Linked DNA regions of Homo sapiens: all the other regions are reported to be linked to region 3. The links are microRNA targets in miRTarBase. Many come from high-throughput screens and were not tested one by one. Region 3 holds a microRNA gene; each other region holds the end of a gene's coding sequence.
What was found. The annotated mature microRNA hsa-miR-3120-3p reads CACAGCAAGUGUAGACAGGCA and lies in region 3 at 3,211-3,231, opposite strand. An mRNA with a match to its seed (bases 2 to 7 or 8) in the 3' UTR can be bound and repressed. Matches are read on the target gene's strand: a 7mer-m8 pairs with bases 2 to 8, a 7mer-A1 pairs with bases 2 to 7 and ends in A, and an 8mer does both.

Region 1: miRTarBase lists SOD2 as a target of hsa-miR-3120-3p. Seed matches in the 3' UTR shown: 7mer-m8 at 4,326-4,332.
Region 2: the mRNA of HMGB3 is a reported target of hsa-miR-3120-3p. Seed matches in the 3' UTR shown: 7mer-m8 at 1,192-1,198.

The regions. Positions count from the first base shown.
Region 1 is chr6:159,678,227-159,683,226 of GRCh38, reverse strand. It overlaps SOD2 (superoxide dismutase 2), which reads left to right. Exons shown (of 5, transcript NM_000636.4): 5 at 589-5,000. The coding sequence ends at 734. Among named protein-coding and RNA genes, the nearest start is that of SOD2, 13 kb to the left of the region's middle.
Region 2 is chrX:150,987,004-150,992,003 of GRCh38, forward strand. HMGB3 (high mobility group box 3) reads left to right here. Exons shown (of 5, transcript NM_005342.4): 4 at 125-299; 5 at 774-3,768. The coding sequence ends at 911. Among named protein-coding and RNA genes, the nearest start is that of HMGB3, 6.2 kb to the left of the region's middle.
Region 3 is chr1:172,136,910-172,142,088 of GRCh38, reverse strand. MIR3120 (microRNA 3120) reads right to left here and starts at 3,281; the gene lies at 3,201-3,281. All of the region lies in intron 14 of DNM3 (dynamin 3), which reads right to left. It overlaps DNM3OS (DNM3 opposite strand/antisense RNA), which reads left to right. Exons shown (of 4, transcript NR_103486.1): 4 at 1,493-5,179. It overlaps MIR214 (microRNA 214), which reads left to right and starts at 3,182; the gene lies at 3,182-3,291.

The DNA.
Region 1 (5,000 bases), not on the chromosome of region 3:
CAGGCCTGAGCCACTGCGCCCAGACCAAAAGTTTTTTTAAATGGATGTTTTACAGATAGAACTAAATTCTTCATTTACCTCACTTAATTTCTGAAAACACTGTGTCCTCCAACTGCTCTGTATTCCCAAAGATTAAAATTAGCCTTGGGGAGCAGAGCTGGTTCCTCGTAAACCCCTGTGAGTGCCCAGACCCTTTGGAGGAGGTTCTCAGTGGGCTTTTGCCTGCTCCCACAGATGTAACCCACCCTTCCTGCTGCTCCTAAGACCACCATGAGGAAGGCTGGGAATTGGCTCTTGAATTAATTTGTTGGTATTTTTAAGAATAGCTATTAAAGTACTGTTGTTAATTTTCCCAAGTCTATTTTATTGTTAGTATTTGTCACATTTTCTTTGTAAACAGTGAATTAAAAATATTTTATAGGAATATTCATTCTTATCTAGATTTCCTACTTATATAAAAAAACAAGTGAATGAGATTGTTACAAAGGGTAATTTTGTGTGAGTAGAATAATAAAAGTTGAAATTGAGAAGATGCAATGTTTTAGACTGAAACTGATGGTTGGTTTGTTTTCCCCTTCTTTCTAACAGGCCTTATTCCACTGCTGGGGATTGATGTGTGGGAGCACGCTTACTACCTTCAGTATAAAAATGTCAGGCCTGATTATCTAAAAGCTATTTGGAATGTAATCAACTGGGAGAATGTAACTGAAAGATACATGGCTTGCAAAAAGTAAACCACGATCGTTATGCTGAGTATGTTAAGCTCTTTATGACTGTTTTTGTAGTGGTATAGAGTACTGCAGAATACAGTAAGCTGCTCTATTGTAGCATTTCTTGATGTTGCTTAGTCACTTATTTCATAAACAACTTAATGTTCTGAATAATTTCTTACTAAACATTTTGTTATTGGGCAAGTGATTGAAAATAGTAAATGCTTTGTGTGATTGAATCTGATTGGACATTTTCTTCAGAGAGCTAAATTACAATTGTCATTTATAAAACCATCAAAAATATTCCATCCATATACTTTGGGGACTTGTAGGGATGCCTTTCTAGTCCTATTCTATTGCAGTTATAGAAAATCTAGTCTTTTGCCCCAGTTACTTAAAAATAAAATATTAACACTTTCCCAAGGGAAACACTCGGCTTTCTATAGAAAATTGCACTTTTTGTCGAGTAATCCTCTGCAGTGATACTTCTGGTAGATGTCACCCAGTGGTTTTTGTTAGGTCAAATGTTCCTGTATAGTTTTTGCAAATAGAGCTGTATACTGTTTAAATGTAGCAGGTGAACTGAACTGGGGTTTGCTCACCTGCACAGTAAAGGCAAACTTCAACAGCAAAACTGCAAAAAGGTGGTTTTTGCAGTAGGAGAAAGGAGGATGTTTATTTGCAGGGCGCCAAGCAAGGAGAATTGGGCAGCTCATGCTTGAGACCCAATCTCCATGATGACCTACAAGCTAGAGTATTTAAAGGCAGTGGTAAATTTCAGGAAAGCAGAAGTTAAAGGCAAAATTGTAAATCAGTCGAGATCGGGTGCCTTCAGGGTGGTATGGCTGTATACCAAAATTGTAAATCACTACATGAAGCTTATATATTGGTTTGGCCTGAAAGGTGAAGTGGGGTAGGCAGGGGGCGGGCTTACAGGTTATGGTGGATTCAAAGACTCCCTGATTTGTGATTGGTTAAGGAAGCAAAGCTTTGTCTAAAAACTTGGGGTCCGCAGAAAGGAACATTAAGGTCTGGCCAGGCCCCTCAGGAAGAAACTGAGAGCAAAGAATGGAGGTCAGAGTTTAGTCCCTGGTGTTCCCCCTTATCTGACGTCTGTGTGAATCCATTTGGTGGGGGTCTGGGTTTCTGAAAAGTAGCTCAGGGGCACGTGTTAAGGATGTCTCTAGGTGACTCTAACTTCCCTGGCTATTGTTTGAAACTGTTATGACCTTCTTGCTTATCAGCTTGCTGGTTTCCTTCTCGGGGCGAGCTGGGTGCCTGGAGTTTTCGGTGAAGGAAACTCAAGATTCTCCTTTATTTCTGTGCTTGTGGGAATCCCCCTGGCACACCCCAAAGAGGGGTCCCTGCTCCGTCTCACAGGGATCTTTTTGTATATTTGGCTTAGCATCATACATTTGCCATGTTGTTTCATCATCTGCCTAATTTACTGTTTTTGAATATTTCATTTGTTTCTAATTGTTACTACAGATAATGCTGGGGTGAGCAACTCTGTGTACATAGGTTTATCTCCTATTGGAATATTTTCTTTATATAGGCGTTTTTTTTTTTTCTTTTTTTTTGGAGACAGAGTCTTGCTCTGTTGCCCAGGCTGGAGTGCAGTGGCGCGACCGGAGCTCACTGCAACCTCCACTTCCCGGGTTCAAGTGATTGTCCCACCTCAGCCTCCTGAATAGCTGGGATTACAGGTGCATGCTACCATGCCTGGCTACTTTTTGTATTTTTAGCAGAGACAGGGTTTCACCATGTTGGCCAGGGTGGTCTCGAACTCCTGACCTCAAGTGATCCGTCTGGCTCAGCCTCCCAAAGTGCTGGGATTACAGGTGTGAGCCACTGCACCTGGCCTATATAGGCTTTTTTCTTAAACCTATTTAGTAATGTTTTCCCAAGTTTATTTTTTATTTTTAATTTTTTCCCCAAGTTTATTTTTCTATTTTTTTTTCATGGAAAAATGGGGTAACTTAGCAGTTTCAATATTGAAGACTGAAGTTTAAAAAAAATTTAAATTCAAGGTACTTTTAAAATTCAGTTAGAAAAGTAGGCTTTAAAAATTATTAGAGACAAGAGTACCAAAGCGGTGTGTGTATGTGTGTGTGTGTATGCATGCTTGTGGATTGGAAAAACTTTGGAGACTGATTACTTTTCATTATATATGTGTCACAGTGAAACAGCTTTTATGTGTCATGTAAGATTACTGCTTGCCTCTCTAAGGAAGGTCGTGACTGTTTAAATAGACGGGCAAGGTGGAACCTTTTGAAAGATGAGCTTTTGAATATAAGTTGTCTGCTAGATCATGGTTTGTATTGAACTAACAAGGTTTGCAGATCTGCTGACTTATATAAAGCTTTTTGATTCCTACTAAGCTTTAAGATTTAAAAAATGTTCAATGTTGAAATTTCTGTGGGGCTCTATTTTTGCTTTGGCTTTCTGGTGAGAGAGTGAGGAAGCATTCTTTCCTTCACTAAGTTTGTCTTTCTTGTCTTCTGGATAGATTGATTTTAAGAGACTAAGGGAATTTACAAACTAAAGATTTTAGTCATCTGGTGGAAAAGGAGACTTTAAGATTGTTTAGGGCTGGGCGGGGTGACTCACATCTGTAATCCCAGCACTTTGGGAGGCCAAGGCAGGCAGAACACTTGAAGGAGTTCAAGACCAGCGTGGCCAACGTGGTGAAACCCTGTCTCTACTAAAAATACAAAAATTGTTTAGCTCTGTTTTTCATAATAGAAATAGAAAAGGTAAAATTGCTTTTCTTCTGAAAAGAACAAGTATTGTTCATCCAAGAAGGGTTTTTGTGACTGAATCAGCAGTGCCTGCCCTAGTCATAGCTGTGCTTCAAAAACCTCAGCATGATTAGTGTTGGAGCAAAACAAGGAAGCAAAGCAAATACTGTTTTTGAAATTCTATCTGTTGCTTGAACTATTTTGTAATAATTAAACTTTGATGTTGAGAAATCACAACTTTATTGTACACTTCATTGCAACTTGAAATTCATGGTCTTAAAGTGAGATTTGAATTTCTATTGAGCGCCTTTAAAAAAGTAATACCAAACCATAAAGTTAAAATCTATGTATATTGAGTCATATCTAAAACCACGTATAAACATAAATTGTATTTCCTGTTTTAATTCCAGGGGAAGTACTGTTTGGGAAAGCTATTATTAGGTAAATGTTTTACAAATTACTGTTTCTCACTTTCAGTCATACCCTAATGATCCCAGCAAGATAATGTCCTGTCTTCTAAGATGTGCATCAAGCCTGGTACATACTGAAAACCCTATAAGGTCCTGGATAATTTTTGTTTGATTATTCATTGAAGAAACATTTATTTTCCAATTGTGTGAAGTTTTTGACTGTTAATAAAAGAATCTGTCAACCATCAAAGAGGTCTGCATTATGCTTGCATGTCAAAAACTTTAAAAATCCTATAATCTTCTGTCATTTTCACTGAGTTTCCATGGGAAAGGAATAGTAAATAATGGGTAGTTGAAATATTACTCTTAAGACCAAGACCTGTATCTCCAGTCATATCTGTAATAACATCATCTGATAACCTAAAAGCATAGTATTAGGGATATACGACAAAACCAAAGTGTTTTTGCTGTTGTCACATACCACTCAATACTTTTACACCAGGTTGTCCAGTGGACACCAGCTGGATGTCCTATAATTCAATTCTGACACTGTCTACCTGGAATTGGAGTCAGATCCCACAGGTGGAGGGCTCAGCCCACAAGACTGCCCCCACTCCAGATACCAATCGCAAGTCCCTATACTTCTGACTGGCTATAAAGTGGGGTTCCCGTGACCCTTTCCTTGGTTTTGATTTATTTGCTAGAGCAGCTCCCAGAACACAGAGAAACACTCTACTTATGTTTACCCATTTTTAATTTTATTACTTTATTAAAACTACATATTGGTTACAATACTAATTTATTGTAAAGGATATTTCATTTATTTATTTTTTTATTTAGAGATGGAGTCTCACTGTGTCACCCAGGCTGGAGTGCGGTGGCACAGTCTCAACTCACTGCAACCTCCACCTCCTGAGTTCAAGCGATTCTCATGCCTCAGCCTCCCAAGTAGCTGGGATTACAAGTGTGCACCACCATGCCCAGCTAATTTTTGTATTTTTAGTAGAGATGGGGTTTCACTCTGTTGGCCAGGCTGGTCTCAAACTCCTGACCTCAAGTCATCCACCCACCTCAGCCTCCCAAAGTGCTGAGATTACAGGTGTGAGCCATTGCCTCTGGCTTGTAAAGGATATTTCAAA
Region 2 (5,000 bases), not on the chromosome of region 3:
TAGATTACTTCACTTTAGGGAGAAGTCATAGTGGTAGGAGGGAGATGCTTCTCAGGAATGTGGGATTTCAACTTTAACTCAAATTTTTTGTGGTTTCTCATGTAATGTATGTAATTCTTCCAAGGTCTGGATTCTTCCTGTTCTGTTCAGAATTCCGCCCCAAGATCAAATCCACAAACCCCGGCATCTCTATTGGAGACGTGGCAAAAAAGCTGGGTGAGATGTGGAATAATTTAAATGACAGTGAAAAGCAGCCTTACATCACTAAGGCGGCAAAGCTGAAGGAGAAGTATGAGAAGGTAAGGTGGGGCTGGAAGCCTGGACTGGTGAACAGGCAGTGGTTCTGCTATCAGTAGGTTGCAGGGCATGTGGCAGCTTTGCTGGGCTGAGTACTTAGCATAGCGCTCAAGGGCCCATCCCCCTGCAAGGTAGCTACGGGTGCTGGTGTTCATGCTTTTTTTTGACAGGTCTTTGTTTTGGGGACAACTTCAGGCTTGAAAAATTTTCCTTACTCTTTAAGGAAAAAAAAATGTTAACAGAGGATTTGATAGTCCTACTAATGTGACTTGAAGGACACTTGAACACCCACTAACTTTTAAATTCGAATGGCTAAGAACCAAATTCATATATGGAAACACTTCAGATATATATGATAGCAGCACTGTCTTACTTGATTTCAATTCCTGTCCTCTTACCTGAGATGAGGACTGCATGTTTCTACTTTGTGTTAAAACAGCCGCATACTCATTTGAAATGTGTCCCTGTTCCTCTAGGATGTTGCTGACTATAAGTCGAAAGGAAAGTTTGATGGTGCAAAGGGTCCTGCTAAAGTTGCCCGGAAAAAGGTGGAAGAGGAAGATGAAGAAGAGGAGGAGGAAGAAGAGGAGGAGGAGGAGGAGGAGGATGAATAAAGAAACTGTTTATCTGTCTCCTTGTGAATACTTAGAGTAGGGGAGCGCCGTAATTGACACATCTCTTATTTGAGAAGTGTCTGTTGCCCTCATTAGGTTTAATTACAAAATTTGATCACGATCATATTGTAGTCTCTCAAAGTGCTCTAGAAATTGTCAGTGGTTTACATGAAGTGGCCATGGGTGTCTGGAGCACCCTGAAACTGTATCAAAGTTGTACATATTTCCAAACATTTTTAAAATGAAAAGGCACTCTCGTGTTCTCCTCACTCTGTGCACTTTGCTGTTGGTGTGACAAGGCATTTAAAGATGTTTCTGGCATTTTCTTTTTATTTGTAAGGTGGTGGTAACTATGGTTATTGGCTAGAAATCCTGAGTTTTCAACTGTATATATCTATAGTTTGTAAAAAGAACAAAACAACCGAGACAAACCCTTGATGCTCCTTGCTCGGCGTTGAGGCTGTGGGGAAGATGCCTTTTGGGAGAGGCTGTAGCTCAGGGCGTGCACTGTGAGGCTGGACCTGTTGACTCTGCAGGGGGCATCCATTTAGCTTCAGGTTGTCTTGTTTCTGTATATAGTGACATAGCATTCTGCTGCCATCTTAGCTGTGGACAAAGGGGGGTCAGCTGGCATGAGAATATTTTTTTTTTTTAAGTGCGGTAGTTTTTAAACTGTTTGTTTTTAAACAAACTATAGAACTCTTCATTGTCAGCAAAGCAAAGAGTCACTGCATCAATGAAAGTTCAAGAACCTCCTGTACTTAAACACGATTCGCAACGTTCTGTTATTTTTTTTGTATGTTTAGAATGCTGAAATGTTTTTGAAGTTAAATAAACAGTATTACATTTTTAAAACTCTTCTCTATTATAACAGTCAATTTCTGACTCACAGCAGTGAACAAACCCCCACTCCATTGTATTTGGAGACTGGCCTCCCTATAAATGTGGTAGCTTCTTTTATTACTCAGTGGCCAGCTCACTTAGGGCTGAGATGAAGGAGAGGGCTACTTGAAGCTACTGTGTGATTTTGTTTGTGTCTGAGTGGCATTCAGATGAAGTCTGGAGGAGTTAGGAGAACGACATAGGCAAGGTTCAGCAGCCTTCCAAGGTATAGGAAGGTGGGTGATTAGGACTGAGGCTATCTAGGTTTAACTTTTGTCCCACCTCCACCCCCTATTTTGTGGGGCCAAATGCATTGCTAAACAGCAATTTCAGAGTGTATGGTGTGTCAAAAATTAAGGCCTTATTGTTTTTCTCTTTCACCCCTACCCCCCGTGCTCCTGGCACATATCACATTATTTGTGGTGCCCAACATTTGGGGTCTTGAGCCTGCTGCTGGTCTCCTGGATGCCAGTGAGGGTATGTGGGATGGGGTGGTGGGGTAGGGGACGGTATCCTTTTTTTGCTCCTACTTGGAAACACCAAACACCCCAAGGAAGATGATAGGCTCCATCTTGGGCCACCTGAGCTATAGGGCAGGCTAATGGAATCAACCATTTCTGAGCACTAAATGTATCATGAAAAGTTGAATGGCCTGCTCATAAGTTTAGCTCATTCACTGGAAATGTAGATTGATGTTCAATGTTAAACTGGAAGGAGCTTGGTTTGTGTGTCAGTGGTTATATTAGTGGGTAGTGTAACATTTTATCCAGGTTGGGGTGAGGGGAGATGGCCACAGTAGCAAGTGGTGACACTAAATACCATTTTGAAGGCTGATGTGTATATACATCATTACTGTCCGTAGCAATGAAGGATACAGTACTGTGTTGTGGGTGAGTGTTGCTATTGCCCAGCATTAATATTTGGGTGTGTATGTTTGAGGCTATGAAACACGCAGGAGTGTTTTTGTGCTATTAATTTTAAGAGAAAGCAGCTTTTTCTTAAAATTCACTGTTGAGAAACTTGCATGTCTGGAGGCGGTGTCCTCTCCGCCCTGTCGGGTCCTGGATGAGTACGAGTTATGGTCACGGTCACAGCCTGATCTCTTATGTGTTCATAGCCATTCGCTCTCCCATCAGAACTGTTTGTCCTGAATGTGTTCCTCTAGTTCTAGAAAATGACCACTAATTTAAAAAACTCGGTTGTGAGGTTTGCCCAGAGGCACTTGTTCCAGAATTTCCCCTCCTGCTTCAGCCATGTCCTTGTCACTTGGCATTCTAAGCTAAAGCTTTAGCTTCCCAATTCGTGATGTGCTAGGCCAAGATTCGGGAGCTGTTGCCAGCCTCGTCAAATATGGAAGAGAAACAACCTGCGGTCAAAAGGGAGTGATTTGTTAAGTGGTGCGCGTCTATCTCATAACTAGATGTACCAACCAGGGAAGGGCCAAGGATGGAAAGGGGTAACTTTTGTGCTTCCAAAGTAGCTAAGCAGAAGTGGGGGAGCAGTTTAGCCAGATGATCTTTGATTAGGCAAACATTGAGTTTTAAAGAGGCTGTCAAGTTGAGGCCACTTGGTCCATTAGCTGGGGCAGCAAGATCACTACTCAACGTTTTCACACTGTGGCAAGATTGCTCTTCTAGTGGAATAATGCCCTAGTTTCTCTGAGATGATGTAAGTGGCATGATGTTACCTAAGGCTTAGGCTTAGCTTGATTTCTGGGCCCACTGTCTGTGTTCTTAAGATGCCAACCTGTTGCTTTTTTTTTTTTTTTCCCCCATTTAAAAGGATAGTACCTACTCCCTCTAACCACCTCACCCCATTCTTGAATGACATTTTATCCTTCGGAAAGAACAAGGCTGTGATGTAGTGACTATTGTCTGTGTCTCCTGTGTGTGTCTGTTCTTGTCACAAATGTATTTGGGGACGTTGGATGCATTCATTTTCTGTAATAAAGTTTCTTAATCACTCTTCCCAAAAAGTAATCAGTGGGCTGTCTGCGATCTGTCTGAGATACTGAACCTCTGTACTTTTGGTTGATTATCATCAAGGTTTTAGAAGTGCAAACTTTGTGGTAACCATAGATCTGAACTACTAACATTTAGTGGAATGATACCATCAAAATGACTTAAGTGTTAAGGACTCCAAAGCCCCAAGATCAACCTCCTGGCCCGAGGCATAAGGGGGAGTTGGCTCTGAAGCCCTGGACCAGGATAAATAGGCAATTTGCAGGATGCTAACGAGCTACTATTTGATAAAGTGGTTGGGTACTTGTAATCAGCCAGCCCTGCCCACAGGGCTCCTCGAGGCCAAGGGTCTGGGCTTAGTTGGCTGACTCAGCCATGCCCAACAAGGAGTTCTGGAGGAGAGCCACAGGGACCGCTTGCTGTTCTTGGCTCCCAGCTCAGTTTTCTGTGGAGCCCAAGGCTACCTGGTAAGGAAAGGCCATTGAGCCAGCTTGGCGGCCCCAAGCTTCCCTTACTGCTTCAACCAGAGCAGCCTCCCACCCTGTTTTATATGTTGGGCATCCTACGATTTCAGCTTTCAAAAGAAGCTGGGATACCATATCAATAAAAGGAAAAAGACACACATGATCATCTCAATAGACACAAAAACCTTGACAAACACTTTCATGATAAAAACAAGGGTAGAAGGGAACTTCCTCAACCTGATATAGGACGTTTAGGAAAACCCATGGGTTTATTCATGATTGTACTAGAAGTTCTAGCCAGGGCAATTAGGCAAAAGAAAAAGAAAACATCCAGACTGAAATTGAGAAGACAAAGCTATGTCTATTTGTAGATGATATGACCTTGTATACAGATAACCGTAAGGAATCTCCAAATAAAACTGCTAGAAAAATGAATTGATCATCTGCAGTATACAAGATTAACATACAAAAACTAGTATTTCTATATACCAGCCATGAACAATCTGAAACTAAGAAAACATTCTCTTAAATATCTACAATAACATCAAAAAGAATAAAATATTTAGGAATGAACAATATAAGTGCAAAACTTACATGGGGAAAAGTACAAAACATTAAAGACCTAAGGAAATAGACATTCCACGTTCATGAATGGGAAGGTTTAATATTGTTAAGATGGCAATACTCCTGAAATTGATCTAGAACGCAATCTCTATTAGAATCCCAGCTGGCTTCCTCTAGTAGAAATCAGGCTGATTCTAAATGTCATATAGAAATTCAAG
Region 3 (5,179 bases):
TTTCAGGGTCTGTCCAAACTACACTTCATAGAAATTTCATAATTATTTTTCATTTTAGCATGTGAATGATTGATAAATTGGACTAGGTACTGGGTTAAAAGGACTTTTCCACCATCTAAGAGAAAGGAAGTTCAGAGCCTTAGCTTCAACACCACAATTTCTTAACTGGAAAAGGATCAATCTAAAACGGTGGACTTAAATTTTCAAACTCATTTTTCTTTTAGGCCACAGATCTCAAAATCAAAGAAAGACTGTTTACTATAGGACAAAGTTTCACACTGATCACTTTCCTGTAGTTAGTCAATAGGCTTAATATCCTTCCTGCTTGGCATTCGGGCTTTCGGCCCAGATAATATGTTTATGTTTGTAAAAGACCAAAATATACTATCTACCCCCACCTCTCGCCTACAGACCACCCATGTATTTCACTCTGTGGGAAACAGTTTAGGCATAAAAATCCTAACGAAAGAATTCTCCCCACTTTTTTGGTTGAAGTCTTAAGCTGTTATAAGATATAAAAAGTACAACTTGGTAATGTGAAAAAATTCACTCATCCACAAGCATCCATGCTCGGTAAAGAGACGCCAAAGCTTTCACTTACTCTGTAAGGGATCTGCTCTTTATAAACAATGCACTTTACTCTGCTCTAAGGAGAATAGCCCACCCATCACAATAACGTCAAAATAATAACTAAGAGACCATCACTCAGAAATCCTGGCTTAAAATAACTAGAAGGTCAGGCTTTAACCTGAGACAGGAAATTCCTGAGTTAAGATAGAAACTTTCTTACTTCAAATCCCTTCTTACTTTCATGTTCTGTAAATTAAGTAGAAATAAATATTTACTCATTTTCAAAGGTCTCTTACAAATAATTTTTATCAGTTTTAATAGTTAGAGATAACGAAGTAAATTAGGAAAAATAATTAAATCTTCATTTTGAATTTTTTGACTTAGCGTGACAGCCAGTTTCCTGGAGTTGCTTTGGTTTAATTTCACTACAGAAGACTTAGAAGACAATTCTTTTCTTACATTTTTTTCCTTAAGAAATAAAAGACAAAAAGAAAACAAGGTGTAATAACCACACTAAAAATTACATGGTATGATAATAATACAAATAGCTCTTTTATGTTTTAGCTAGTATTTTAAGTAATAATAAACTAATATTCAACCTATAATTTGGGAGATTAAAAAAAGGTCAATATGGTTTTCAGTCTTTCATCTTTTTAACAAGTTTAGGGGCAGGTTCAACATAACAATGAAGTGTGCATATGTCACATAGTTACTGTAAGTGTGTTTTAAAAATCTATCAGAAACATAAATTGTCCAAAAGCCTTATGAATAGAACAATTGTTTTCAGCAAGATTTTTTTTTTCCCCTGAAAAACTGTTGTGGTTTTTCTGGCTCAAAAAATTTTTATATCTTGCCTTAATAAAACTGTTTTATATTAAAGCATAACATACAAACTCACAAATATTTCTTTTTATTTTTTCAGGTTGCATGCATCATTCCTTTAATTGAGCAGAGTTAACTGGATCAAATTATTTATGGGAGAGAGAGGAAAAGTTATAAAGAATTATAGTAATTTTTAATTTCCACCAATATACTCTTTGTAAGTGAATCACTCTATAATTACTTTCTGTTGCACTGAATGCAGCAACAATAACACAATAGTATTTTAAGGCACTGGTTTTTGGCATACTCTAACCTTGTAATTATTTAAATAACAGCCAAGTTTACTCATGTTTTTGATTCTGTCAAGAAAAAAAAAAAGTTCCTTTACTCGAAAGTGATGGCCGAAACAGAATCGGAAATTTGTTTTCTTGAAATTACATAAATACACAGAAAATGGCACTTATTAGCTTTTGTTAAAACATTACCTTACCTAATCACTGCATAAAAGTCCAGATTTGTAGAAAATTGTAATTTTCTCAGTATCTAAAACTATTTTGCTTTCCATTAAGTTTCTATTTGCTATTTTCTCAGAATTTTACAATTAAAGATAAATCACAAACTGTTTGTTTTTCTTAAAGTTCTTTGAGAAAATGTCTAATTATACAATCCTTGGACAATACTGTGTTTTTTTGGTGCTGTGTTTTTTAAGAAGTCCTACTTACTGGAATTTTGACTATTTGGATATTTTTGTTTTTAAAAGGGGAGGGGAATTTGCTTAATACTTCTAAAGATGTGAATTGATAATTGATATTAAAATAGAATTACTCTCAACTCACCAGAATTAAATTTTATATCTGCATATTTAACACTATTAGCTCATATAAATTATAAGAAAAATTTTCAAAGGATCTGGTTTTAATTTTTTGGATATGAAATGAATTTGCCTTTTCTGCCTTTTCTTAAGTACTATTTTGTAACTATATTGCACTAACTATATCCAAAACACATTCTGAGCATCACTGTGAGTAACAGCCTTCCAGTTTGTACCCTTTTGATTCACAGCATGGCCCTATAGTTAATTAAGAGGTGGATAACTTAAGCTCACAACTGCCTTTAATTTGATTTCACATCCACAGTTATAAACTTTGCATTTAAAAGGAAAATGAGACATTTAAATAGGTTCCTGTTGTTTCACATATAATTGGTAAAAACATATTCCCTTGTAGGATCCTATTATCAGAGCATCAAATACCAAAGTCAGCAACTTGGGTTGCCAAATAAATTAGGCTCATTAATTATTTTGAAAAGGGCTGCTGTTTCCATGTAAATGATAATTTTCTTTTTCATGGACAAGGTTATGGTACTTATCTACTAAAAGAAACATGCATAAACATAGTTTTTATCTTTAACTTCAGTATTAAAATATGCAGTTTTTTGCAAAGAGGAAAAACATCTGGTTCAATTACGCTGAACTCTGACTACATGTGGGCCAGTAATAATATGAATTGGACTTAAGAATAAACCTTGTGTTTAATCTCTTTTTTTCCTTAAAATTTTAATGTGAGTTTTCTGTTACGCAAATTATCCATGTTAGCACATTTGGAACAAATGTATAAATGTACTTTCTGAATAAAGTCAAAAGTCTAACTTGTTTTTAGTTCCATAATGTTTTAATGTTTAATTATATTGTGTATTTTTCTCCCTTTCCCCTTACTCTCCAAAATCACCAAATCTGGAAAACAGGCTGATTGTATCTGTCTATGAGCAAAGGAAACCTGAAGGAACCAAGGGCCTGGCTGGACAGAGTTGTCATGTGTCTGCCTGTCTACACTTGCTGTGCAGAACATCCGCTCACCTGTACAGCAGGCACAGACAGGCAGTCACATGACAACCCAGCCTGAATGACAACCAGCCATTGAAAGAAAGCAGCCCTCACACCATAGCATCTACACCAAGAGCTACAACCAAAATGAGGGGCTCGGGGGCCTGGGGTTTTAATCTGTTGGTTTAATACTTAACTCATGTATTATTTTATTTTGATTCAAGTATTAAAACCCACCAAAAGTAAAGTGAGTGGTGCCTATGAAATATAATAAAACCCATTTCTGAAAATGTTCCTGTGCATTCTATAGTTCTCTTTTCCTAATTGTTGTCAGCAAATCACTACCCTTGACCTTTATTGTACACAGCTTTGCAGCACCCTATATTGATATAAAAACTCAATATAACAAAACAATATAACTTCAGTCTGATGCTTAACAAAGAATAAATTATTCTAAGAATTCTTGTCCATAAACTAAGTATGGTTTTCTATGTCATGATTTTTTTTTTTTTTTTTTTTTTTTGGAAGGGGATAGGGTGGAAAGACAGAGAAAAGAAAAGGGAGAAAAAGAGTATTCCAAAGGATCAAGTGCTTTGAGTTAACTCTGCCAGTCTGGGTTAACTCTGCCAGTCTGGGTCTGGGCAAAACACAGTGAAAAGACTACTATTTCCAACTAGTGTTCAACTATATTAAAATAATAGTTTCTCCTCTTTTGACATATGGAAAGTTGAAATTTTTGATACTTCCACGCGTCATGGTATACATAAATTTATGACTGCGTCATTCTTTAATTAAGAAGGTGCTTATGCTACAGTTCTAGGAGTAGAATTTACAAGGCCAACACATTCACTTGCAACCTATGCTTCCATCACTATAAACTTTCAAGATCTTGAGATGTTCAGGCAATTCATTTATCTTCAGAAGCATAAGGAAAGTGGTTAATGCACTTGAAATGTATATTTTGACACATCTTTTGAGAAAATATCCAAACTTCAGTTTATGCACTGTTAACTGGAGTGAAATGATAAGGGATGGCTTTTGTCTATGAATACTTTAAATACTTAAGGGTAAAAGGTGGGAAGATGGATAAAATTAGAAATGTGTCAACTTTTATTTAGTTCATTAACATGTTTTAGCTTCAGTATTTGAAATTAATTTTCATCTTTCTTAGATTCTGGTCAAGCTTAAAAAATGTAACACAAGGCTACTCAAAACTTTTTTCACATTTAACAATTAAACACTTTATGTATGTATTCTTAACTAAAGCAAACTATTTTTCATTCAGCTATTTTATTTTTAAAATGAAAGTCTCAGTCTTAAAGCTAAGATCCCAGTGAGTTTCAAATTTTCTGACAATGATATTTTAACCAAACCTGACATTATAGTTTCTTTAATTAAAAAACTGAATGATGGGGCAAAACTACAAAGCACAAATATGATTAAAGTTAAATTTCTCTCATTTAAACAATCTTGTCTTATGGCAATATGTCATCTGCTAAAATTCATCTCTGCTTCTGCAAGATACATTGCACGATGCAGATTTTTGCCTTAAATAAAAGTCCCATTACTAGCAAATAAAGTCCTAAACAATACTTACAAAATGTAGAATATAAACAGGAAGACAATATAAAAATTACTCACAGAATATCGACATCGTTCTACCCAATCTTAAATGCCTTGTACCACCTGTTGCAAATGCTGCCTATGAGAGTTCACGTATGGAATTATTCTACTGGACCCTGCAAGGCTCAGGAGAGTGCTTGACAGCTCCCAGAATGAGACAATGACCTAGCCAGAACATTAAGGAGACTACACCCGTCCTTCAGACTCCAAAGGGAAAGCTAGGACGGCAGCAGAGTCATCCTAAGGTGAGGCACTCCAGGATAACATTTTCAATATTTTTCCTTAAAACATAAAGTTAACACCTTTTTTGTTAAACATTTTTTACTCAATTTTCAAAAAAAA